Linked DNA regions of Homo sapiens: region 2 is linked to region 1. Evidence: fine-mapped expression QTL. A gene starts in region 1. The other region holds a variant in brackets. All regions are shown on one strand. Distances are between the middles of the regions. Region 1 holds the start of MAP1S (microtubule associated protein 1S). Region 2 overlaps FCHO1-AS1 (FCHO1 antisense RNA 1).

What was found. PIP is the estimated chance that this variant, and not a neighbour inherited with it, causes the effect.
Region 2: its variant is the best candidate, but not a certain one, in a credible set for the expression of MAP1S in CD8 T cells (Kasela 2017, PIP 0.81).

The regions. Positions count from the first base shown.
Region 1 is chr19:17,716,997-17,721,374 of GRCh38, reverse strand. MAP1S (microtubule associated protein 1S) reads right to left here and starts at 1,895. Exons shown (of 7, transcript NM_018174.6): 1 at 1,755-1,895; 2 at 338-439. The coding sequence starts at 1,872. RefSeq lists enhancers at 704-853, 1,244-1,313, 3,364-3,865 and a silencer at 1,664-1,713.
Region 2 is chr19:17,738,124-17,742,501 of GRCh38, reverse strand. The region is part of intron 3 of FCHO1-AS1 (FCHO1 antisense RNA 1); the gene reads left to right. Among named protein-coding and RNA genes, the nearest start is that of FCHO1-AS1, 11 kb to the left of the region's middle. RefSeq lists an enhancer at 3,139-3,639. The variant ATTTATTTT/T (reference allele first, on the strand shown) is at 1,919.

The DNA.
Region 1 (4,378 bases):
CTGCTGGGTCTTGACTGGGGCCCTTCCCTTCCACTGGACACACCAGTCATAGCAGTTTCTCATCAAAAAACCCCCTCCTCAGAGATCTCCCTGCCTCTTCCCCCTTCAATGCCAATTTCCTCATCTGTCAATCAGGGACAAAAACACCAGTTCCTGCACTGTGGGTTGCTGAGGACTGAGGGGGTTATCACTGGGTCACGGCTTGCATTTGAAAGGTCTCAACTGTATTATTACTGTTGTTATTTATAGCTGCATCCCACCCCCCATGCCTGGCACACGGCTGGCACTTCCCCAAATAACAAGAGGTAGGGAGCAGTCAGGGGGACCCCAGCCTCACCTTTCACAATGCTGGAGAAGGTGGCAGAGTGTCGGGACACAAAGACCTTGAGCTGTTCATCAAGGTTGCAGACGCCAGGATCGACATCCCAAGACCGGATGCCTGGTGGGAAGGAGGGATCAAGGCGGGAGTTCAGCCGGGCCCCCCAGCTCCCAGAATATTTCAATAATTAGCACCCCGTGGGTGGGGAGCGCCCCAGCCTCCTCCCTTCACTCACAGCTTGGAGACTCAGAAGTACCCAACACCTTCAGGTCTCGCTGCAGCTGAGCCAGGGGACCCAGAGCACACCTCATCATTTTACACACAAGATTCATCAGCAACAAAGCCTCCACCTCCTCCATCTCCACCTCCTCGCTGCTCCTATGCCCTGCCAGACCCGTTTCCACTCACCGCCCTTGCAACAGCTGTTTCCCCTGCCTGGAAGTCCATCCCCCTGCCGCCCCCACCTGTTCCTACTGGCCAGGGGGCCCTTCCCCCTCAGCACCTTCGGGTGCTAAGACTGACTGTCCTCTCAGTCCCTTGCAGCCTTCTCATCCTTCCTGACACCATGTGAGCTGGAAGCTTGTTCCATCTCCTCACTCGCTTTGGGTCCATCCCCAAACCAGACCTGTGTTGGCAGGGCTGAACCTGTCTATCATCCCGGCCATATCCCTGTGTCCACTGCCCAAAGGCCTGGCGCATAGCAGGTGCTCACTAAACACTCCTCAAGCACATGAACCGAGGTGCGTGTTCCTGTCCCATTTTACATGCAATGAAACGCCAGGTCCAGATGCTCCGAGGGATGGGGGATGAACACCCATCTCCACCCACGGGCGCATCACGCCCGCCAGTCCCACTGAGCCAAGTGGCTGCAGGTGAACCTGGCAGGTGCGCCTATGACTCACCTCCCTAGGTGCCAAATCCCCAGGGCAGGCCGCACCCGCCCACACCCCAATTAGCAGCTCCTTGTGAGGCAACAGAAAGCGGGCCCCGGGGCTCCAGGCCCAGCCTCCCCCATATCTGCTTCTCCCTCCGGGAGATCTCTATCTAAGCTGCTAAGACCTGGAGATCCAAAGCGACCCCAGGCCCTACCCCCGGGCAGGCCAGTCAGGCGGGAAGCGGAGCCGTGGTCCAACTGCAAGGGTCCCCAAGCCCAGGCCCGTGTCCCCTCCCCTATCTTCACCCGGAGTTGGGGCGGGGCAGCCCTGCCCAGCCCAGGCCCGGATGCCACTTTCTCCGCGGGCACCCACGGGCACCCCGCCTTTGCCCGCGTCGTGCGCCTAACGGTGAAGGGGACCCAGCCCCAGGCCCGCGACCCCCGCCCCGGAGCCCGGGTCCCGCCGCCGCCGCCGCCGCCGCCCCACCCCGCCGGCCCCGGGCCCAGACGCGCGAACGGGCCCGCCTCCCGGGCTCCCGCGGGCCCCCAGGCCAGCCCGACCTCTTTCGAGCTCCTCCAGGACGTAGGTGAGGAGCCCCGGGCTCCCGAACTCGCTGCCCACCACGAGGAGCAGTGAGCTCGGAGCCGCGGCAGCCCCAGATCCAGCCACCGCCGCCATCTTCGGGCCGCCCCGGCGTTCTCGGCGCCCGCCCCGCAGGCCCCGCCTCTTAAAGGGGCCGCACCGGAAGGGCTGAAGACCCCGCCCGGAACCACCGCATCCCCGCCCCTTTTTGTCGACCACTTACAGGCCCTTTGAGGTCGTGGAGAGCAGGGGATGCGGGCGTTAAAGGGGTTGGCCGACTCCTGGGTGTCCGCTTGGGAGCCGCCTCTCCCAAGTGACCATTCATTCATTTTTTTTTTCATTGAACAAGCTTTGATTGCGTGCCTGCTGCATGTAGGTCAGAACTCCTGCCCTCCAGGAACTCACATCACATGACAGTAGGCCGCATCAGAACCCGGTGCCTATGGATGCTCCCAGCTCTCTAGGTCAGGGCTTGAACAGAGAAAAGAAATCTATCTTGTAGGTAGGGCTTTAAGGGATGTGTAGGAGTTTGCCTTGTGGGTGGTGGGGCAAGAGCTGGTGAGGCAGAAGTTTACAGCAGGTGCAAAGTTTTAGAGGTAAGAAAGTACATGTGTGTTTGGGACACAACCGGAGCACTCTGGGCCTGCCTGGAACAGGGCAACACTTATTCTGCACCTCCTGTGCGCCAGGTATTTTATTGCATTAGCTCATTACATACAAGCACAAAGCGATGAGTTTTGTGCTTGTATGTAGGCACAGATGAGTAGGCACAGTTACTGTGGTCACTTTCAGAGGAAAGAAGAGGAAACTGAGATTTGGAGGGATGAAGTCACCAGGCCTGTAAGTGGTAGAGCAGGTTTGAACCCAAGTGGGTCTTACTCTAGATCCAGCCTGTGCAAGGGACTGCCTGCGTTGCGCACATGGGTACCTCTCTCTCCCCAGATAATCCTCTTTAGGCTTTTCTTTCCTTTCCTCCCCTCTCTTCTCCTCTCCTCCCCTCCCCTCCTCTCCTCTTCTCCCCTCCCCTCCCCTTCTCTCCCCTCTCCTCTCCTCTCCTCCCCTCCCCTCCCTTCCTCTCCCTCCCCTCCCCTCCCCTCCTCTCCCCTCTCCTCTCCTCTCCTTTCCTTTTCTTGAGATGGAGTCTCATTCTGCCGCCCAGGCTGGAGTGCAATGGCACAATCTCAGCTCACTGCAACCTCTGCCTCCCGGGTTCAAGCGATTCCCTTGCCTCAGCCTCCCAAGTAGCGGGATTATAGGTGTCCGCCACCATGCCCTGCTAATTTTTGTATTTTAGTAGAGATGAGGTTTCTTTTCTTTTCTTTTCTTTTCTTTTCTTTTCTTTTCTTTTCTTTTCTTTTCTTTTAGAGACAGAGTCTCGCTCTGTCGCCCAGGCTGAAGGGTAGTGGCGCGATCTCGGCTCACTGCAAGCTCCACCTCCCAGGTTCATGCCATTCTCCTGCCTCAGCCTCCCGAGTAGCTGGGACTACAGGCGCCCGCCACTGTGCCCAGCTAATTTTTTGTATTTTCAGTAGAGACGGGGTTTCACCGTGGTCTCGATCTCCTGACCTCGTGATCTGCCTGCCTCGGCCTCCCAAAGTGCTGGGATTACAGGCGTGAGCCACCGTGCCCGGCAGAGATGGGGTTTCACCATGTTGGCCAGGCTGGTCTCGAACTCCTGACCTCAAGTGATCCTCCTGCCTTGGCCTCCCAAAGTGCTGGGATTACAGGCGTGAGCCGCCGCGCCTGGCCCCCTTTAGCCCTTTGACCCATAGGGGCTACTACTTGACAAATCATCTTGCTTGGAACTTCTGGACAGTGGTCCATGCCCAGGAAACATTGAACCTCCTTTCTCAGGAGTGAGCTCCCTGTCTCCGGGAGTATGCAAAGAAAAGCAGAACAGAAATGGGAAAGATCTGGGAAGGCGAATCAGCCTCCCGCTGCCGTTTATTATCTAGGTTGTTCAGCCCAACTTCCTCCCTGGCCAGTGTGTAACAGCCACTGGCCACGTGCCGTCTACCATTCTTGCACTCCACTTCCTCTCTCTCTTTTTGGTTCTGGCATCCTTCCTCTATCCTTGTCCCTCCCCCTTGGCTCCCTTCCCTGTGTCTCGCCTGCCTGTGATTTCTTCTGTTATTGCTGTGAGCAGTAATAGTAGTGGGAGTGTCTGTGTCGGGCACTATCTCCCCTATAAGGCTGGAAACTTTTGGAAGCCTGAGGCCTCTCTGGGGCCCTGGCCTTGTGCAACACAAGGCTTGGGCATCTGAGAAGGGATATGATAAAGTCTTTTGGAATGGGCTGAAAGGCCTATTTGTCCACTATTCCTTCCTTCCTTCCTTCCTTGTGTATTTATGGATGGGTCCAGGATTCGAACCCAGGAGCTTCTGAATGGAAGTCTATCCACTTCCTTCTGCCCACGCTGTGAATTATGATTGTTGGTACTAATTCTTTTTTTTCTTTCTTTTTTTTTTTTTTGAGACGGATTCTCACTCTGTCGCCCTTGCCAGAATCATTCTGAGAGAGAGAGAGAGAGTCTTGTTCTGTCAAGCAGGCTAGGTTGGAGCACAGTGGTGTAACCTCGGCTCACTGCAAGCTCCGCCTCCCG
Region 2 (4,378 bases), 21 kb before region 1:
CAAAAATACAAAAAATTAGCTGGGCTCCATGGCTTGTGCCTGTAGACCCAGCTACTTGGGAGGCTGAGGTGGGAGGATCCCTTGAGCCCAGGAGGCAGAGGGAGCAGTGAGCGGAGATCATGCCACTGCACTCCAGCCTGGGTGACAGAGCAAGACGACCCCATCTCAAAAAAAAAATTAGGTGGGCATGGTGGACTGTGCCTGTGGTCCAAGCTTCTCAGGAGGCTGAGGTGGGAGGACTCCTGGAGGCTGCAATGAGCCAAGATCATGGCACTGCACTCCAACATGGGCATGAGAGTGAGACCCTATCTTAAAAAAAAAAGAAAGGAAAAAAGAAAAAGAAAAGTTGCTGTTTAACACAATTGACTTGCCCTCAAATTCCTTCCTGGGTGAAGCCAAGAACCCTCTCAGACTAAGCCCCAATTTTGAGGCTTGCCTGTCCTATCACCTTCACGTGCTCAGCTGTTCCATTGAAGTGCATGTGTGTAGCAATTCCAGAATGTTTAACTGGGACCCACAGTGGGGTTTCAAACAGAAACTGCTCACCTTTTTCTCCAGCTTGAAACACTCCCCAGACTCCCCAGCACTCTTGGTAAAAACTGCAAACCTGTCTCAGCAGCCCATCATGCTTATGGGGTCCGGCCCTCCCTACATTCCTGTCCTCACCTCTCTCTACCCACCTCAATGCAGGGGGCACAAAAGCCGTTCCACCTCAGGGTGCATCTGACTGGTAACTTTCCTACCTTGAGCTCTTAGTTCCTGTTTGGTCCCCTCCTCCAGGAAGCCCTCCATCTGGCCTCCCAGGCTCCTTTCCCAACTTTAGCTCTTATGGTCCCTTCCTCCAGGAAGCCCTCCATCTGGCCTCCCAGGCTCCTTTCCCACCTTTAGCTCTTGTGGTCCCCTCCTCCAGGAAGCCCTCCTTCTGGCCTCCCAGGCTCCCGTCCCACCTTTAGCTCTTAGTTCCTATGTGGTCCCCTCCTCCAGGAAGTCCTCCTTCTGGCATCCCAGATTTCCTTCCCACCTTTAGCTCTTAGTTCCTATGTGGTCCTCTCCTTCAAGAAGCCCTCCAGCTAGCTTCCCAGGCTCCTGAAAACCCATCTGGTTTTCCTTCCAAGCCAGTGCTGATCCCCCAGGACTGGGATGTTATGTTAGGCATTGCCCCCTCCCCCTCCAGCCTGGGAGCTTCTTGGGGGCCCTGGCCCTGGTACTATCCACACCTGTCAGGTGAGGTCTGAACTGCATCCACACTCCCCCAGACACTCCACTCCCAAGCCTGGGCCAGGGGAAACAGAGCTCAGAGAAAGCAAGCTACTCTTGGAAGTCACACAGCAAACACACGTCAGAGGCAGGACTTGACATGGGTGTGCTGGTACCACAGCTCACACCTGCCCTGGGCCCAGATCCCAAAGGATGCTGTAGGGGGTGGGGAGGACAGGATGACATAGGTCAGGCCTGTCTGGAGTGCCTGGGGCCGAACAGGCCAGGGAAGAAAACTCAGGGGTCCAGTTGCCAAAACAGCCCAAGGCTCCCTGCTCTTCCTGGAGGTTCAGGCCAACTTTCTTATTTCTGAGACTGGGGAAGAGGAGAAGCCCAGAGAGGTTAAGGAACATTCCCGAGGTCACCCAGCAGTGCTGCCAAGCTGGGGCACAACCAACATTTCCCAAGAACCTGGTGTGTGGGTACAGGTACTGGGTCCTGTCCTGGGCAGCGGGCACCCAGAAACAACCAAGATGGAGAGGGTGCAGCTCTCATGGGCTCACAGTTGGGGGAATCAATATAAACATATTGACATATAAACATATAAACAAGTAAGAGTCTGCTAGGGCTATGGATTAAAAGGAAATACAACAGGAAGATGTGCTGGTGGACAGGACGACACTTTATTTATTTATTTATTTATTTATTTATTTATTTATTT[ATTTATTTT/T]GAGATGAAGTCTCGCTTTTGTCCCCCAGCCTGGAGTGCAATGGTGCGATCTCGGCTCACTGCAACCTCCATCTCCCGAGTTCAAGTGATTCTCCTGCCTCAGTCCCCTGAGTAGCTGGCATTACAAGCGCCCGCCACCACGTCCAGCTAGTTTTTGTATTTTTAGTAGAGACGGGGTTTCACCATGTTGGCCAGGCTGGTCTCAAACTCCTGACCTCAGGTGTTCCCAAAGTGCTAAGATTACAGGCGTTGAGCCGCTGCGCCCGGCCTTATTTATTTATTTTGAGACAGTCTCACTTTGTTGCCCAGGCCATCTCAGCTCACTGCAACCTTCACCTCCCAGGTTCAAGCGATTCTCCTGCCTTATCCTCTCGAGTAGCTGGGATTACAGGCACCCACCACCACGCCCGAATAATTTTTTTTTTTTTTTTTTGAGACGGAGTTTTGCTTTTGTCGCCCAGGCTGGAGTGCAGTGACGCGATCTCGGGTAACTGCAACCTCTGCCTCCCGGGTTCAAGTGATTCTCCTGCCTCAGGCTCCAGAGTAGCTGGGATTACAGGCGTGTGCCACCACGCCCCGCTAACCAGGTTGGTCAGGCTGGTCTCGAACTCCTGACCTCAGGTGAGCCACCCACCTCACCCTCCCAAAGCGCTAGGATGACAGGAGTGAGACACTGCATCCGGCCCTAATTTTTGTATTTTTAGTAGAGACGGGGTGTGACTATGTTGGCCAGGCTGTTCTCAAACTCCCGACTTCTGGTGATCCGCCTGCCTCAGCTTCCCAAAGTGCTGGGATGACAGGCGTAAGCCACCATGCCTGGCCAGGACACTTTTAAGAGAGGGAGTCAGGAAGGGTCCAGGCAGTGGACTAAGAGGTAGCAAGGAGGGCTACCTGGAGGAGGTACCATACCAGGCAGGGCTCCACCACGCCCTGCCCCATCACTGCCTCTCTCTGGGAAGAGCTGACATCTTCCCAGAAATGAGCTCTGGCCACGCCCCACCAGGACCTGGCACCCCCACCCCCACCCCTCTTCCACTGGCGGGCCTCTCCCAAGTCCACTTTAAGCCCGCTTCCCCTGCGTCTCCCCTCCCCCAGGGCCCCATGGGATTTGGTCCCAGCTGCTCAGTGAGGCCTCCAGGCAGCTGCCTCCCACACTCTTCCCCCTTTGCGGGGGCGTCAATGTCACCCTTCTCTCAGTTCCTCCAGCAAACCAGGCCTTTGCCTCTGCCGGTCCCTCCTCCAGGAGCACCCTTCCCCTTCCCTAATAAGGCTCACCCTTTTGCATCCTTGGGAAGCCTCCTTTAACCCCCAAGGCGGCAGCGCTAAAAGGCTTCCTCTGAGCCCTCGGGGTGCGCGTGCCACCTCCCCACACCTCACACCATGGGCTGTTGCTTCTTTGTGTTTCACTCGCCCACCTGACACTGTTTGCCCAGTGGGAGGAACTTCCAACAGTTTTTGTTTTTATTTTGTTTTGAGACAGAATCTTGCTCTGTTGCCCAGGCTGGAGTGCAGTGGTGCGATCTCAGCTTACTGCAACCTCTGCCTCCCAGGTTCAAGCAATTCTTCTGCCACAGAGTAGCTGGGATTACAAGACGTGCACCAGCACACCTGGCTAATTTTTGTATTTTTAGTAGAGATGGGGTTTCTCCATGTTGGCCAGGCTGATCTTGAACTCCTGACCTCAAGTGATGCGTCTGCCTCGGCCTCCCAAAGTGCTGGGATTACAGGCATGAGCCACTGCACCTGGCCTAAAAAGCTTTTTTGAGAGTCAACTGGCAAGGAGACAGTAGGCGAAGTTCAAATCTGTCTCTTCAAGCTGGAGCTTGGGGGCAGGTTTCATAGGCAGAGGGTTATCATGGGAGAGATACGGAAATGCAATGGGGGTGATATGACTGCATCACGTGCAGGGGCGATGATGTGTTTTTGGTGCTCAAGTCCACACTGCAGTAAACAAGGCACCGCCCTCCCCCTTTTATTTTTTGAGACAGGGTCTTGCTCTGTTGCCCAGGCTAGAGTGCAATGGCGAAATCACAGCTATCTGTAGCCTCAACCTCCGGAAGCTCAAGTGATCTTCCCACCCCAGCCTCCCAAGTAGCTGGGACTACAGGCGTATGTTACAACACACAGCTAATTTTTGTATCTTTTGTAGACGGGGTCTCACTATGTTGCCCAGGCTAGTCTCCAATTCCTGGGCATGAGACACCACACCCAGCTTTCTCTTTTTAATTTGGTCCCCATTCCTTTTTTTTTTTTTGAGATGGAGCCTCGCTCTGTCACCCAGGCTGGATCTCAGTGACGGTGGGATCTCAGCTCACTGCAATCTCTACTTCCTGGGTTCAAGCAACTCTCCCTGCCTCAGCCTCCTGAGTAGCTGGGATTACAGGTGCGCACCACCATGCCCCGTTAGTTTCTTTTGTATTTTTAGTAGAGACGGTTTCACCATGTTGGCCAG